Linked DNA regions of Homo sapiens. The gene in region 2 interacts genetically with the main gene of each other region. Each region holds a gene or a part of one and is shown on either strand. Other genes may lie near its edges.

Region 1 (3,500 bases), on a different chromosome or scaffold from region 2:
AAATTTTTCAAAGCTAAAGTTACTTAAGCATGCCTTTAAAAGTCTGATAAATTGAGATAAGCAAAAGGAAAACTTAAGGGTCTTTTCCCCAAAAGTTTCAATAACTGAAAGGTTTTTTTTTTGTTTTTTGTTTTTGTTTTTGTTTTTTTTGAGACGGAGTCTTGCTCTGTTGCCCAGGCTGGAGTACCGTGGCGCGATCTTGGCTCACTGCAACCTCCGCCTCCTGGGTTCAAGCAGTTCTCTGCCTCAGCCTCCCGAGTAGCTGGGATTACAGGAACCCGCCACCACGCCTGGTTAATTTTTGTATTTTTAGTAGAGACAGGATTTCACCATCTTCGCCAGCCTGGCCTTGAATTCCTGATGTCGTTATCCGCCTGCCTCAGCCTCCCAAAGTGCTGGGATTACAGGTGTGAGCCACTGTGCCTGGCCTGTATTCCATGTTTTTCAAACTTATACTATATAATATATATCTTTCTGAATCTTGCTCTTTTTGTACAACATTGTGACTTATCCATGATAATATATTCTGATTATCCATCTTAATATGTACTGCTTTCGTTCATTCCTTTTAACAACTGTATAGTTTTCCACAGTATGAGTATATCACAATCTATTCTTCTAATGTTTTCATAGTATAAACAATGCTGAAATGAATATTAACCAATGACCTTATGTTATACAAAGACTAGTAAGTAATAAGTATTGCCCAGCTCCCACCACCAGTACTCTTAAGTTTTGGATAAACTCTAGTATTTGGCAACATACTACCATATTTGCCTATTAGAATATTAATTATGTATTTTTGAGTCAGTATTTAAAATTCAGGTGTATTTTTTTTTTTCAGTTTGACCAGTTCGACTCAAAAATAAAAAATAATTATTTAATATTAATCTGTTGGAATGAATAATGAAATTACGGGTATTTGAGATTATTTTTATGTTAAATACTAGTGCCCGATTATGTTAAAGTAGAAGCACTTCATTATAACTGTTCAGCTGGGTAAATTTAAATTGTGGTATTTCACATATTAGAAATATTTTGTCTTGATTGCAGGATTTACGGAAGGCTGCAGTCCTTATCTTTGCAAATAAACAGGATATGAAAGGGTGTATGACAGCAGCTGAAATCTCGAAATACCTCACCCTTAGTTCAATTAAGGATCATCCATGGCACATTCAATCCTGCTGTGCTCTCACAGGAGAAGGGTAAGTTCATCCGTCTGAGGGGAGGTATGACTTCTTTCAAATTTCTTCCAACTTTTTAGGCCAACTTGTTTTCTTCATGGGTCCTGTTCCTTTTCTGTTTGTTTGTTCTTAATTAAAGGTGACTTTTATAATGTGTCTCAGGCTTACAACCTAGAAATAATTCTAGTAAAATCACTGGCAACTTAAAAACTTTTAATGTAAATATAATGTTTTACCAAAAAGCAATAAACTATTGAATTGAGTTTTCATAATCCAAATTTTTTTCTTTGTTGCCTTTATCATATACTGAGAAAAAAACTGTAATGTCACCTTTCTTTTAAAAAGGAAGCTTGAAAGAAATTTCACATTTTCTGCAAGGACTTAAACCTGAGCTCTCAGCTTTCTGCAAGAGTATGTCTTCTTTATTATTAGGAGGTCTTTTGGGAGGCATATTTCCAGACAATAAACAGTTGAGACAAATGCCACATGGTCTATTCTTCCATCTCTAACAATTTGAATGTGGGTATTAGGCCAAGAAGAACCGAATGTTATTTAAGTATTATCCTGTTTATATCAGAGAACTTATCCTCAAATCAACCTCACCTTCTTAGTTTTTCTCTTAGTATTTATCAGAAATAGCTTGCAGTAATAGCTGTGTGTAGGCCTTTTTGACTCATACTTTTAAGACTGAGTCTAAGTATTCCATTCTTTAGAATTGAGGAGGATAAGGTGAAGTTGCTATTGACTTTCTCCAGTCGTTAAGTTTCAGTTAATTTTAAAAGGCGGGGAGTATTTGCACTCTTCATGGCAAAACTGGCAAAGTTGTATCTTCAAGATGAGACTGAAGCAATTTCCCACAAACTGATTAAGAATATTTAAGAGAACATTCCATTTAAAAATTTCACTTATTATAGTGTGACTTGAATGTTGACACTGATGTATATAAATAATGATTGTGCTACCAGCCTTTGGTTAAGACCTAAAAATAATAAGTACGCTTTCAGTTTTTAAGTATAAGGTTTTTAATTAAAAATACTTCTATCTTTTGTTTAGGTTATGCCAAGGTCTAGAGTGGATGACCTCCCGGATTGGTGTGAGATAACTTTTTTGCTTGAAAGAGACTGCTCTATTTATTCTGTGACATGAACATTTTTTCCTAGTACCTTTGGCTGCTAAGGCAGCAGCATGTTTAATTTATAACAACACAAACCTCTGAGAGCAACACTTGAATCAAGTGCAGCTGAACTGGAACATAAAAGATTTTTTCTTAACTTTTTTTTTTTAACACACTAATCTTCAGTTGGATGAATGTAATGTATAACTATGTTTTCAGCAACAATTCTTCTGTTTATTCTAATTAATCAGTGACTGCCTTGTAAGAAATGTTTGTCATATGCGTGATGTCTTCTGAAATATTCTTATAACCTTAATGACCAATTGCTTTCAATTCTTGACCAGCACTCCCTCCCAACCAGAGAATTACTGGTTTGATAGAGTAGTCTTGGAAACCATCAGGTACTGCCTGCAGACTTCTCCAGCACTAAATATATTTGTTCCCTCTATAAACCATTCATCTTTCGGACAGAACTTACTGTAAAGAAAGAAATCTGCCTAGAGGATATATGTAAGGAAGATTCCACATCATGAGTACTTGCCTTTTAACTTTCCCCCACATTACTGTTGAGTCATGGAATAATGTTTAAGTTGTTATTTGCATGGAAATTAAGTAGGCTGTTTATTTATCTAAAGGAATCAAGTCCACTCTTCTGCCTGCAACATTTGTTCAAAAACTAACCAAGGTAAAATATTTATTTGAAAGCCCAACTTTGATGTTAAATATTCTTGAATAAATCTGTTATTTTAAGAATATCACATTATTCAATGCATATAAAACTATCAGAAGTTAGTAAATCATACCAGCACTAAAAATAAGACAATTGGAATATATTTTAGCATCAGTTTACAAACAACTTTATTATCAACAGAAATTTTAGCTCTTTTCTTTGCAAGATATATCACAGCTGCTTTGGGCAGTAGCTGAAGCCGAAGTATGAACAGTCCATTTTGTTTCTTAAAATTTGAAGTCGTGTCTGTCATAGCATTTTTACTACCAGCAGTATGTTACTTAAAAAACTACATGGCTTTCCTTGAATTTATTTGACGGTATTATGTAATAGACTTGAAACAATTGCCATCTTTGTAGTTATGCCTTGGGTTCTAAAATGTTATAGGAAACTGCTGAATTGAATCCTAGCTTTTAGAATATTAATAGGAGACTCAAAGTTAATATTCTTAACAACTTAAAATTAAAAAAAG
Region 2 (3,500 bases):
AATACTACATATGAAAATTCATATTGCTTTTTTATTTTTTAAAAAAGCTTTTGTTTTATAAAGGATTTCCTATAGAATTTCTTAAAAATGCTACGTTTTTCAGGATAAGTTATTTGAAATATTCCCATAAAGGGAAAGCATTGCATTTTGGAAATCACTACCTCTAGGAAGAGTTGATTACTTTTTCTTGTCTCTTGATAACACTAATTGGGGCTCAGATATTTCTGAACAACTGTATAGACCGTAATGCCTCACTTGTTCTAAATATTACAACTTTTTTTTTCTCTTTTCTTTGTTTTTTGGTTTTTTTTTTTTTTTTTGAGACAAAGTTTCGCTCTTGTTGCGGAGGCTGGAGCGCAATGGTGCAATCTCGGCTGACTGCAACCTCTGCCTCCCGGGTTTAAGAGATTCTCCTGCCTCAGCCTCTCGAGTAGCTGGGATTACAGGCATGTACCACCATGCCCGGCTAATTTTTGTATTTTTAGTAGAGATACGGTTTCTCCACATGGGTCAGGCTGGTCTTGAACTCCTGACCTCAGTTGATCCGCCTGTCTCAGCCTCCTAAAGTGCTGAGATTACAGGTGTGAGCCACTGCGTCCTGCCTCTATTTATTTATTTATTTATTTATTTTTGAGACAGAGTCTTGCTTTGGCGCCCAGGCTGGAGTGCAATGGCTCTATCTCGGCTCACTGCAACCTCTGCCTCCTGGGTTCAGGTGATTCTCCTGCCTGACCCTCCCGAGTAGCTGGGATTACAGGCGCCCTCCACCATGCCTGGCTAATTTTTTTTATTTTTAGTAGAGATGAGGTTTCTCCATGTTGGCCAGGCTGGTCTCAAACTCCTGACCTCAGGTGGTCCACCCGCATCGGCCTCCCAAAGTGCTGGGATTATAGGCGTGAGCCACTGCGCACAGCCCAACATCACAACTTTTAACCCTGGTCTTCCTCTATTGTGTCAGTAAGAGCATTTTTAAAAATCAGAAGTTTGAGCATGAATAAGAATTTTGCTCCAAGTGATACTATCAAGAAAGTAAAAAAGCCTACTCAAAAGGAGAAAAAATATTTATAAATCATTCTGATAAAGGACTTTGATTTTTATTTTTTGTTTTTGGAGACAGGGTCTTGCCCAGTCACCCAGGTTGAGTGCAGTGGTGTGATCATGGCTCACTGTAGCCTCAACCTACCAAGTAGTTAGGACTACAGGCACGTGCCGCCATACCTGGCTAATTTTGTAAAAAATGTTTTTGTAGAGATGAGGTCTCCCTGTGTTACCTAGACTGGTCCTCAAACTCCTGGCCTCAAGCAGTCCTCCTACCTTGGCCTCCTAAACTGCTGGGATTACAGGCATGAGCCATGATTCCCAGCTAATAAGGGACGTGTATCAAGAATTTTTATAGCTCAACAATAAAAAGACAGCCCAATTTAAAAATGGCCAAAAGTTCTGAATGACATTTCTTCACAGAGCATACACAGATGGCCACTGAGCACATGAAAAGATGTTTAACATATTAATCATTAAGGAAATACAAATCAAAACCATAATGAAATACCACTTCACACCTACTTAGGGTGGCTGTAATAAAAACGTTAGATACTAACAAGTATTGACTGGCACAAGAAGAAATCAGAGCCCTCTCAGACACTGCTGGTGGGAATGTAAAATGTAACTACTTTGAAAAACAATCTGGCAGTTCCTCAAAATGTTACAGAGTCACTAATCCTAGATGTTTACATATGTATGTATATCCTAGGGTTGTGTGGGTGGGGGTGTACATATGTATCCCCAACAGAAATAACATGTCCATACAAAAGCTTGTACAAAATTGAAATCAAGGAATCATTTTTACAGCACTGTTAATTTTCACATGTATTACTACCTCTGGGGTGTTTATGTGATGCATTTATATTCACAGACAGAATGAACATTGTTATATTTCAAGCTTACATGACGTGTCTTTGCTTTACATTCTTTCTTTTTTTTAAATACTGTTTTAGAGACAGGATCTCACTCTGTCAACCAGGCTATAGTAGAGTGATGTGATCACAGCTCACTGTAGCTTGAGCTCCTGGCCTCAAGCAATGTTCCCACCTCATCCTTCTGAGTAGCTGGGACTACATGTGCACACCACCATGCCTGGCTAATTTTTAAAAATTTTTTGTAGAGATACGGTTTCATTATGTTGTCCAACCTGGTCTCAAACTCCTGGCCTCAAAAGATCCTCACACCTTGGCCTCCCAAAGTGCTGGGATTACAGGTGTGAGCTACTGCTGTACATTCTTTATTAATGTTTAATATAACATTGCTCAAATTATAGCTGCATAATTTTTGAAGAGGGACTGTCATTCTATAAAATTGTGCATGATATATGTAGTTATGTTTTCAGCTTACTGTAAAAATCATAAATCTCAGTCCCCTTTCAATTTTTTAATGTGAGTATGGTGAAGGGAAAAGCTAGTATCTTGTTCTGTGGGATAAAATTGCTTATGTCAAATCTGTATTTTATTTCAAAAGTATATTTCCATCAAATTAGGTTATTTAAAGAAAGTTATTTGAGATAAATATGCTTAAAATATTTTTCAGACCACATGAATATTTCTGAACTTACTGTCTTAGTCCACTTTAACCTGGCATTAGAAAGTAAGAACAAGAAATTGAACTTGAAGCCTTTTTTTTTTTTAATATATAATTGGAATTAATTCATTCATAAGAGTGGTACTCTCATGACCTAACGCTTCTCATTAGGTCTCATCTCCCAACACTGCTGCATTGGGATTAAGTTTCCCAACCTGCTTTTTCGGGGGTTCATTTAAGCTGTAGCATTCTGCCTCTAGCCCCCAAAATTCAAATCCTCAATCAGATATGGGTGAGACTCAAGGCAGGATTCCTGCTGAGGTAAATTCTCCATCTGTGGGTCTGGGAAATCAGGCATCTTATCTATTTTCAAAATACAGTGGTAGGATAAGCATAGGATAGACAGTCCCTTCCAAAAAGGAGAGATAGGCAAGAATAAGGGTAACTGGTCCCAAGTAAATCCAAAACTCAACAGAACAAACAAGATTAAATCCAAGGCACCAGAATAATCTTCCTTGGCTCCATGTTTTGCCTTCTGGGCATGCTGGGTGTGGAGTTTGGGCCCCAGAGGCCTTGGGCAGCCCCATCTTTATGGGTTTGCCACGTGCAGCCCACATAGCATCTTATGAGTTGGAGTCGGGTGCCTGCAGCTCTTGCAGGCTGGTGGTGTGCCCTGGTAGCTCAGCAGTTCTGGGATTTGGGGGATGGCTTTTTCCCCATGGCTCCACCAGGTGTTGCTGTAGTAGGAACTGCTGTGTGGCTCTGCCCTTCTGAAAAGTTTCTGCCTGGAGCCCCAGGCTCTTTGTGATGTCTTTTGAAATCTAGAGAGGAAGCCGTGCCTCCACAGTTCCTGCATTCTCTGCATCTGCAGACTTAACACCACATGGACACTGCCAAGATTTGCTGCTTGTACCTTCAGAAGCTATGGC
Region 3 (3,500 bases), on a different chromosome or scaffold from region 2:
TTCTCTATAAATAGTATATTTATAAGTTAGTTGTAGAATTAAACAAAATATATCAAGATCCTACACAGTGCTTGGCCCATAGCACAAAATTATAAGTTTTTATTGTTGTTATGTATATAAAGGCTGTGTATTGTGAATTTGACTCTGCTGAAACAGACAAGATGAGAATACTGGAAATGATAATGTGTTAGGGTGGTAAATTGTATTAGAAATTTTGTGTGATTTTTTTTTTTTGAGAATAAAAATGTCTCAGGAAGAAATGCTTCACTTGTTCTGCTAAAAAAAATTAATAATTTTGGGACCCCCAAATTTTGTTGAAATGATATTTTGTTAGGGTACATTATTGGATACCATATTTTCAGATTTCAGAAGCTAGAGATTAAATAATTGGTGTTCAACCTGTTTAATAAATTAGTAAGTAAAAGGAAATGCTCTGAATTGAGCGAGAAAGAGGTAGTTTACTTATCTTCCTTACTTTTTTTCTTTAATTTCATGGTATTAGTGGTGTAGGATAAGTGAATGTATGTACATGAATAGATAAGTATTCTATAAAGTAGCTCTAGTGTTCACAAACCTTCTCTATCTGCTGTCGCCCATCCCTCATCTCCACCTTCACCTTTAAGAGTGGGAATATGAGAAATGAGTAATAAGGGAAGATGCTCAAGAGCAATTTAAATTATGCCTTCTGCCAAAAAGCAGATTAAATTATGAAAGTAGGCATGTTAAGTTAAAGGTAGAAAGAACACAGAGAGCAGAGAGATACCATTCGTGTACTTTGTCTTGTGAAGCATTATGATGTACTTAGCAAACATTGCGCATATGTGCTGCTCACTGAGTCATAAAAGTGGTTTTGTTTTATGGAATTTTTTATGACTCTCTTTTTTAATGTGTTTTAAATATTTTAGGAGCCACTGGAAGTGGGGAAATGGTCTGTACAATATGTCAAGAAGAGTATTCAGAAGCTCCCAATGAAATGGTTATATGTGACAAGTGTGGCCAAGGTAACCATTGATTTCTTTTAATCTTGTTACATACTGAATGACTATGTTGAAGATTAATGACTAAAAATACTTTACATTGATAATTTGAAATTATCCTTTTTATTAATTATATTAATGTAGGAAATAATGCTAAAATGCATTCTTGAAATTGTGTTGAAAGTATTAATGAAACCGAATTTGCTTTATGCTTTTTTTGATATTAAGGATATCATCAGTTGTGTCACACACCTCATATTGATTCCAGTGTGATTGATTCAGATGAAAAATGGCTCTGTCGGCAGTGTGTTTTTGCAACAACAACAAAGGTATATTTTAAGTGTTTTGGGCTAAAGCTCTGATGGAATTTGTAAGACATTATCAACATAATGATTGTGTACACTGAAAGTTTGTTGGAATGAAATGAGCAATGAATGCTGGGTAGAAAGAGGTGCTATTTATTTGACTAATGATGCTTAAGTGACTTTTTAATGATGCTTTCACTTATTTGATGATAGTAATACGGGAATTGGTGCAGTAATTTGAAAGAAGAAAAGAAAAATAGAGATTATTATTAATCAGACAGTTTGTGATATGGTAAAAGTTTGGAAAGGAAATTTCTCCAGAAGTGTCAGAGTCGTTTTTAAAGTATAGAATTGTGTTTAAAATTTTAGCCTTCACTCTTTCACATTTTTTTCCCTCTAATGTAGAGGGGTGGTGCACTTAAGAAAGGACCAAATGCCAAAGCATTGCAAGTCATGAAGCAGACATTACCCTATAGTGTGGCAGACCTTGAATGGGATGCAGGTCATAAAACCAATGTCCAGCAGTGTTACTGCTATTGTGGAGGCCCTGGAGAGTAAGTAAATACAGTTATGTAATTCCCTTTAAGTAATTTTTATTTACTTATCTATTTTTCTTGATTATGGTGTGTGAGTGATGGTGAATTGCAACTGCATGAACACATCAGTGAAGAAAACCAGGGGGAAAATCTATTATTTTCATAAAAAAATAATTTTCATCTAGTTTTTGATCATATCCACACATTAAAATATTTGTATAAGTCTTATATTCTGGAAATTTAAAGTGAATTATAAATATTGTCATAAAATTAACTATTGAGGGAAAACATTTACTGCAGGGGCCCAGTATCAGTAGTTTCATTGGATGTCATATTTAATGTGATTGACCATTTAGAAACTGGTATATTTAATATTATAATTTAAATGGGAGAGTAAAAGACAAGTTTTTTAAGACATAAAATCAACATGGAACTTTTTCACAGATAGATTACTGCTTTCTTCTACGTATTTTCATTTCTTTCTTAAAGTGATAGGGCACAGATTGTAGTGCAGTGACATGATCATAGCTCACTGCAGCACTGAACTTCTGGGCTCAAGTTATCCTCCTGTCTCAGCCTCCGAAGTAGCTAGGACCACAGACACGTGCCACTACACCTGGCTAATTTTAAAAAGTATTTTTTTTTTTGTAAAGACAGGTTCTTGCTACCTTGGCCTCCCAAAGCTGGCTGGGTTTACAGGCCTGAGCCATGCTGGCCTGGAGTAGCATTTTTATTTTCTTCCAGAACTTTTTCTTTGCATATACAGTTTGGCCAGCTGTTTGGTGCAAGAGGCCTAGCTTTTGGCCTATCTTGGCTTTTGACATACCTTCCTAACGTTTGATTTAAATTTAGAGACTTGTGACTCTTCCTTTCATTTGAACACTTAGAGGCCATTGTAAGATTTTTTTTTTTTTTTTTTTTGAGACAGGTTCTTGCTCTGTTGCCTCGGCTGGAGTGCAGTGGCATGGTTATAGCTCACTCCAGCATTGAACTGGGCTCAAGCAATCCTCCCATCTCAGCCTCCTGAGTAGGTAGGACCACAGGCATGCGCCACCACACCCTGCTAGTTTTTTAAGTTTTTTTGTGGAAATGGAGTCTTGCTATTTGTCCACGTTGGTCTCCAACTCTTGGCCTCAAGTGATTCTCCTGCTTTGGCCTCCCAAAGTGCTGGAAATACAAGCATGATCACCACGCCTGGCCCCCACTGTAAGATTATTAATTAGCCTAATTTCAATATTGTGTCTCAGGGAATAGGAAGCTTGAGGAGAGGGAGAGGGATGGGGACTGGCTGGTTGATAGTAGTCAGAACACATGCAACATTTAGTGATTAAGTTTGCCATCTTAGGTGGGCACGGTTTTTGGTGGCCCAAAATAGTTATAGTAGTAACATCAAAGATCACTGATCACCATGAAAGATACAATATTAATAATAATGAAAAAGTTTGAAATATTATGGGAATTTCCAAAATGTGACACAGAGACATAAGGTGAGCACATGAACCTAGAAAAATAGTGCTAATAGACTGAATCAAGGTATAGCTCTGTTTGGAAATGGTGCCTTTTATTATTTTCCGATAAAGATAACCGTATCAAAGTTTGGAAATGGTGCCTTTTATTATTTTCAAATAAAGATAACCATATCAAAACCACATACTAGCTGGGTGTGGTGGTGTGTACCTGTA
Region 4 (3,500 bases), on a different chromosome or scaffold from region 2:
TTTTTTTCCCTTAACTATTTGCTAATTCAATTATACCTCCAACTTGCCCTACCACCACCACTACCCCTAGACCAAACTGACCTATATTTTGTATCCTTTCTATTTTATATAGTGTACTAAAGGAAGTATACCAAGCCTTTAATCCCAAAGCAGTGGTCTTACAGCTGGGAGCTGACACAATAGCTGGGGATCCCATGTGCTCCTTTAACATGACTCCAGTGGGAATTGGCAAGTGTCTTAAGTACATCCTTCAATGGCAGTTGGCAACACTCATTTTGGGAGGAGGTGAGTATAAAGGAAGGTTACCAGAATTTGTTGACCTTCCTCCACATTTTGTCCATTGGCACTGAACTTGGAAAACTTGGCTTTCTTGCATTGGATAATACCAACCTACCTGAGGCCCAGAAGCCTGAGTCAATAAAATCTGCCACCTCCACAGTTCAGAATAAGAAAATACTCTGACACACTTCTCAGCTTAGCATGTGCATTGACTTCTTGGCACTCTAAAGTCTAAATTTCAATTCCTGAAGCAAAGATCCTCTGGTTAAAGGTTACCTCGAATCTTAAAAATAGAGGATGTTAACCCCGGTAGACTTTGATCCACCTTCTCTCAGTGTAGTCTTTGATTTTCAGTTCTAATAATCATCTTTTGGGAACATGTCACTGAAATTCCAACTCTACTTGTATGTAAGTAGTAAACACACAGATTAATTAAATAAGCTGAATTCAAGAATGCCTCTTCCCCCAAAAAGCATGGATTTGTTACAGTGAAGCAAAATTGAGAGATCTATAGTCTCTTGGGCATTCTTGCCTTTGGTGTGTGCTGATTATTTGTATTACTTAGCCAAAAGAAAGCCCGGTCTATTCAATAGTAGCATTTAAACATTTGAGAAAAGAACTTGTCACAACATCTACCACCTTTAAAGATGCCTTGCTTAAAATCTTCTGTCTACCTACCTGGCACAATCTTTATTTCATTGGATGAATAGATTGGTGTGTTAAAATAACATGGTCAAGCAGATTGAGCTTAAAATGCATATATTATAGAAGAGCTAATTGTTGGTTGTTTTGTCAACCTGTTAGAGGAAATTGTGGGGAGGCCTTATTAAATGAGTGGGCATTCAACACAAGTACACAAGCCTTGTCCTTTGGCAGCCTCAAACTCTAGAAGGCTCAAAATTAAAGGTACTTACAAGAGACAACCTCTTATGAAAAGCTGGCAAGAAATATATTAACTTCAACTGAAGAAAAAGATAAAATTGATAAGTACTGTGTGACATATTACTTTTCTTGACAGCACTAAGGATGGTGATTATGATACAGGTACAGCTAAGGAGGGGGAAGAGACCTTTCTACCATATACATCAGGTTAGAACCTGACTTTTGTTTGAGGCTATAATCTTTACATTAAAAGCCTGTTAGCATTCTCTAAAGCCTTTTTGTTTTCTCAGCCCAAAGTTTTGACATTTGAATATATAAGTCTTCTTAGGAAATATGTGTATTCCTGAAAACGCTTGTGCATAAATGGAATTTTTGCAAATCAAATCATATTGTATATGTACCAGAGATAGTTTACTACCTAAGCAAAACCTATAGTGACCTTTTTTTGAAATTAAATACTCATGCCGAATAAGTCTATCTTATAAAGTCAGATTTTTCCGTGTCAGGAGTATTTAAAGTAATACCTGTACTATCTAACTGAAATTCTCAGCCCTATTAACACACAATTCGTAGAGGGAGCCACATCCCCAAGCTTCAGTGGACCCCATTGAGACCTAAAAGACATAGTCAAAGCATCCGTGACCTTTCAAATAGTAGAAAAGCTTAAGAAAAGAGTGACCATATGTCCGAGTTTATACATGTTATCCCAGTGTAATGATTAATAGTGCCCTCTTTTACTTTTAAAAGTATACCATTTTGTATGATAATTTATATGGTCACCCTATCTAAAATAGACCAGATTCTGTTTCCCTTAGGCTGCGTTGAGATTAGGAAATCATTCCATTTTACCCTTATACTCTTAGAATTTAGCTAAAGGCCAATGTTCTAATGCTTGCATGGCAGAGCACATCTATTCAGCACAAAAATGTGCTGATTATTAGCCAGTATAATATGGCCGTTGGGTGACTGTGACAGGACCTGACGAGATGGGTCAGAGCATCCATCAACGGTCCCTTCCTCATCTCACTCTCTTTGATCTCTGCCACCAGGCCTATGTTTTGTGGCAAAAAGGAATGCTGACATCAAAAGAAGGAAGTCTGTTTTTGTCAGCATTTTCCTTTTCTCTTTCCTGGGTTTTTAGGGCTAGATCTGCCAATAGTTTTAAAAATACAAATCACATTCAGCAGTCATTTTATAGAATTGTTGCAAAATTCATCACAGAAATCTTTCCATTGGGTAGATCACCTCAAGAGATCTGGATTCCAGAGATCTGAGTCTTGCTGATGGCTCTTGATGGAACTGAGGAGTTTGGATTCCTCAGGTACATATTTTTGGGGAGATGGGAGCCTATTTAATCTTTGCAGACCTTGGACTGCCCAGTTTTACACTGTGCATGATTTGACTGGTCCACCAAAGTCTGCCTACTAGGTGGTTTAAAAATATCACAAAGGGGGGATTAGGGGAAATTCTGCAATTTGAGGTTGTCTTTTCTTAAAACATTTTTCTCTCTTTCCTTACCCCCCTTCCCTCTCCTGCTGTTTTATGACTATTCTTTCCTAACTTCACAATTCTTGATGGAGACAGGAGGCTATAACCTTGCCAACACGGCTCGATGCTGGACATACTTGACCGGGGTCATCCTAGGGAAAACACTATCCTCTGAGATCCCAGATCATGAGGTAAGTAAGGCTCTGACAAGTCCTCTCTTCTTTAAGGGGAAGAGCTGAGTCATTCCACCTAATCAAAATCACGTCCTCACCACTCAATACCGTTTTGTTGAGAGACACTTCAATAACAATAACACACTGTCTTGGCAGAATAGTGGACTCTTGTTCCAAAATATCCAAGACCTTCTGCCTTTTTGTTTTTTTACAAGAGATCTCAAAGGCCAACCAACTTTAATTTCTCAATTAATTACAGAGACTGTGGGAAGGGGTCACCTGTTCACACAAAGAATTCTTTGGAATATGTGCATATTTTTATCCCCTAGCCTCAAAAAGGAAGGGGCTATTTTTAAAATGTGTAAGCTGGATTCTCATCTTTTTTTTAAGAAGTTTCATAGGTGGTACGTGGCACATGTTCTTTGGTGGTAGTCCTGATCTCTCAATTTTCTTTGACTAATGTAAAATTCAAGAAACCCACAAGCACTACAAAGACCATTGCTGATGTTTTTCTAGCAATTAGTGGCACACAGAGGCTGGAATAGGACCATCCAAAATGTGAAACGTCATTTGAGCCCTTGCCATTTTCTTTAGTCATACAAGATGGGCTTTATGTTTTCCAAAGCAAAGATGTCTGTTCTAGTTTTCCCAAAACAAGTTCATGGAAAGCTGTCTGGG

The links.
Region 1: changes in EED (region 2) and ARL5B together harm fitness more than expected from each alone (negative genetic interaction), as found in Homo sapiens cells (one large-scale study listed by BioGRID).
Region 3: changes in EED (region 2) and MTF2 together harm fitness less than expected from each alone (positive genetic interaction), as found in Homo sapiens cells (one large-scale study listed by BioGRID).
Region 4: changes in EED (region 2) and HDAC8 together harm fitness more than expected from each alone (negative genetic interaction), as found in Homo sapiens cells (one large-scale study listed by BioGRID).

The regions. Positions count from the first base shown.
Region 1 is NC_000010.11:18,672,931-18,676,430, forward strand, and holds part of ARL5B (ADP-ribosylation factor-like protein 5B), read left to right. Parts: intron 1-1,053; coding exon 1,054-1,205; intron 1,206-2,237; coding exon 2,238-2,286; 3' UTR 2,287-3,500.
Region 2 is NC_000011.10:86,258,253-86,261,752, forward strand, and holds part of EED (polycomb protein EED), read left to right. Parts: intron 1-3,500. UniProt on the Homo sapiens protein: Polycomb group (PcG) protein. Component of the PRC2/EED-EZH2 complex, which methylates 'Lys-9' and 'Lys-27' of histone H3, leading to transcriptional repression of the affected target gene.
Region 3 is NC_000001.11:93,113,783-93,117,282, forward strand, and holds part of MTF2 (metal-response element-binding transcription factor 2), read left to right. Parts: intron 1-905; coding exon 906-1,001; intron 1,002-1,205; coding exon 1,206-1,306; intron 1,307-1,687; coding exon 1,688-1,836; intron 1,837-3,500. UniProt on the Homo sapiens protein: Polycomb group (PcG) protein that specifically binds histone H3 trimethylated at 'Lys-36' (H3K36me3) and recruits the PRC2 complex, thus enhancing PRC2 H3K27me3 methylation activity.
Region 4 is NC_000023.11:72,461,344-72,464,843, reverse strand, and holds part of HDAC8 (histone deacetylase 8), read left to right. Parts: intron 1-112; coding exon 113-285; intron 286-2,741; coding exon of another isoform or gene 2,742-2,745; coding exon 2,746-2,840; exon of another isoform or gene 2,841-3,500. UniProt on the Homo sapiens protein: Histone deacetylase that catalyzes the deacetylation of lysine residues on the N-terminal part of the core histones (H2A, H2B, H3 and H4).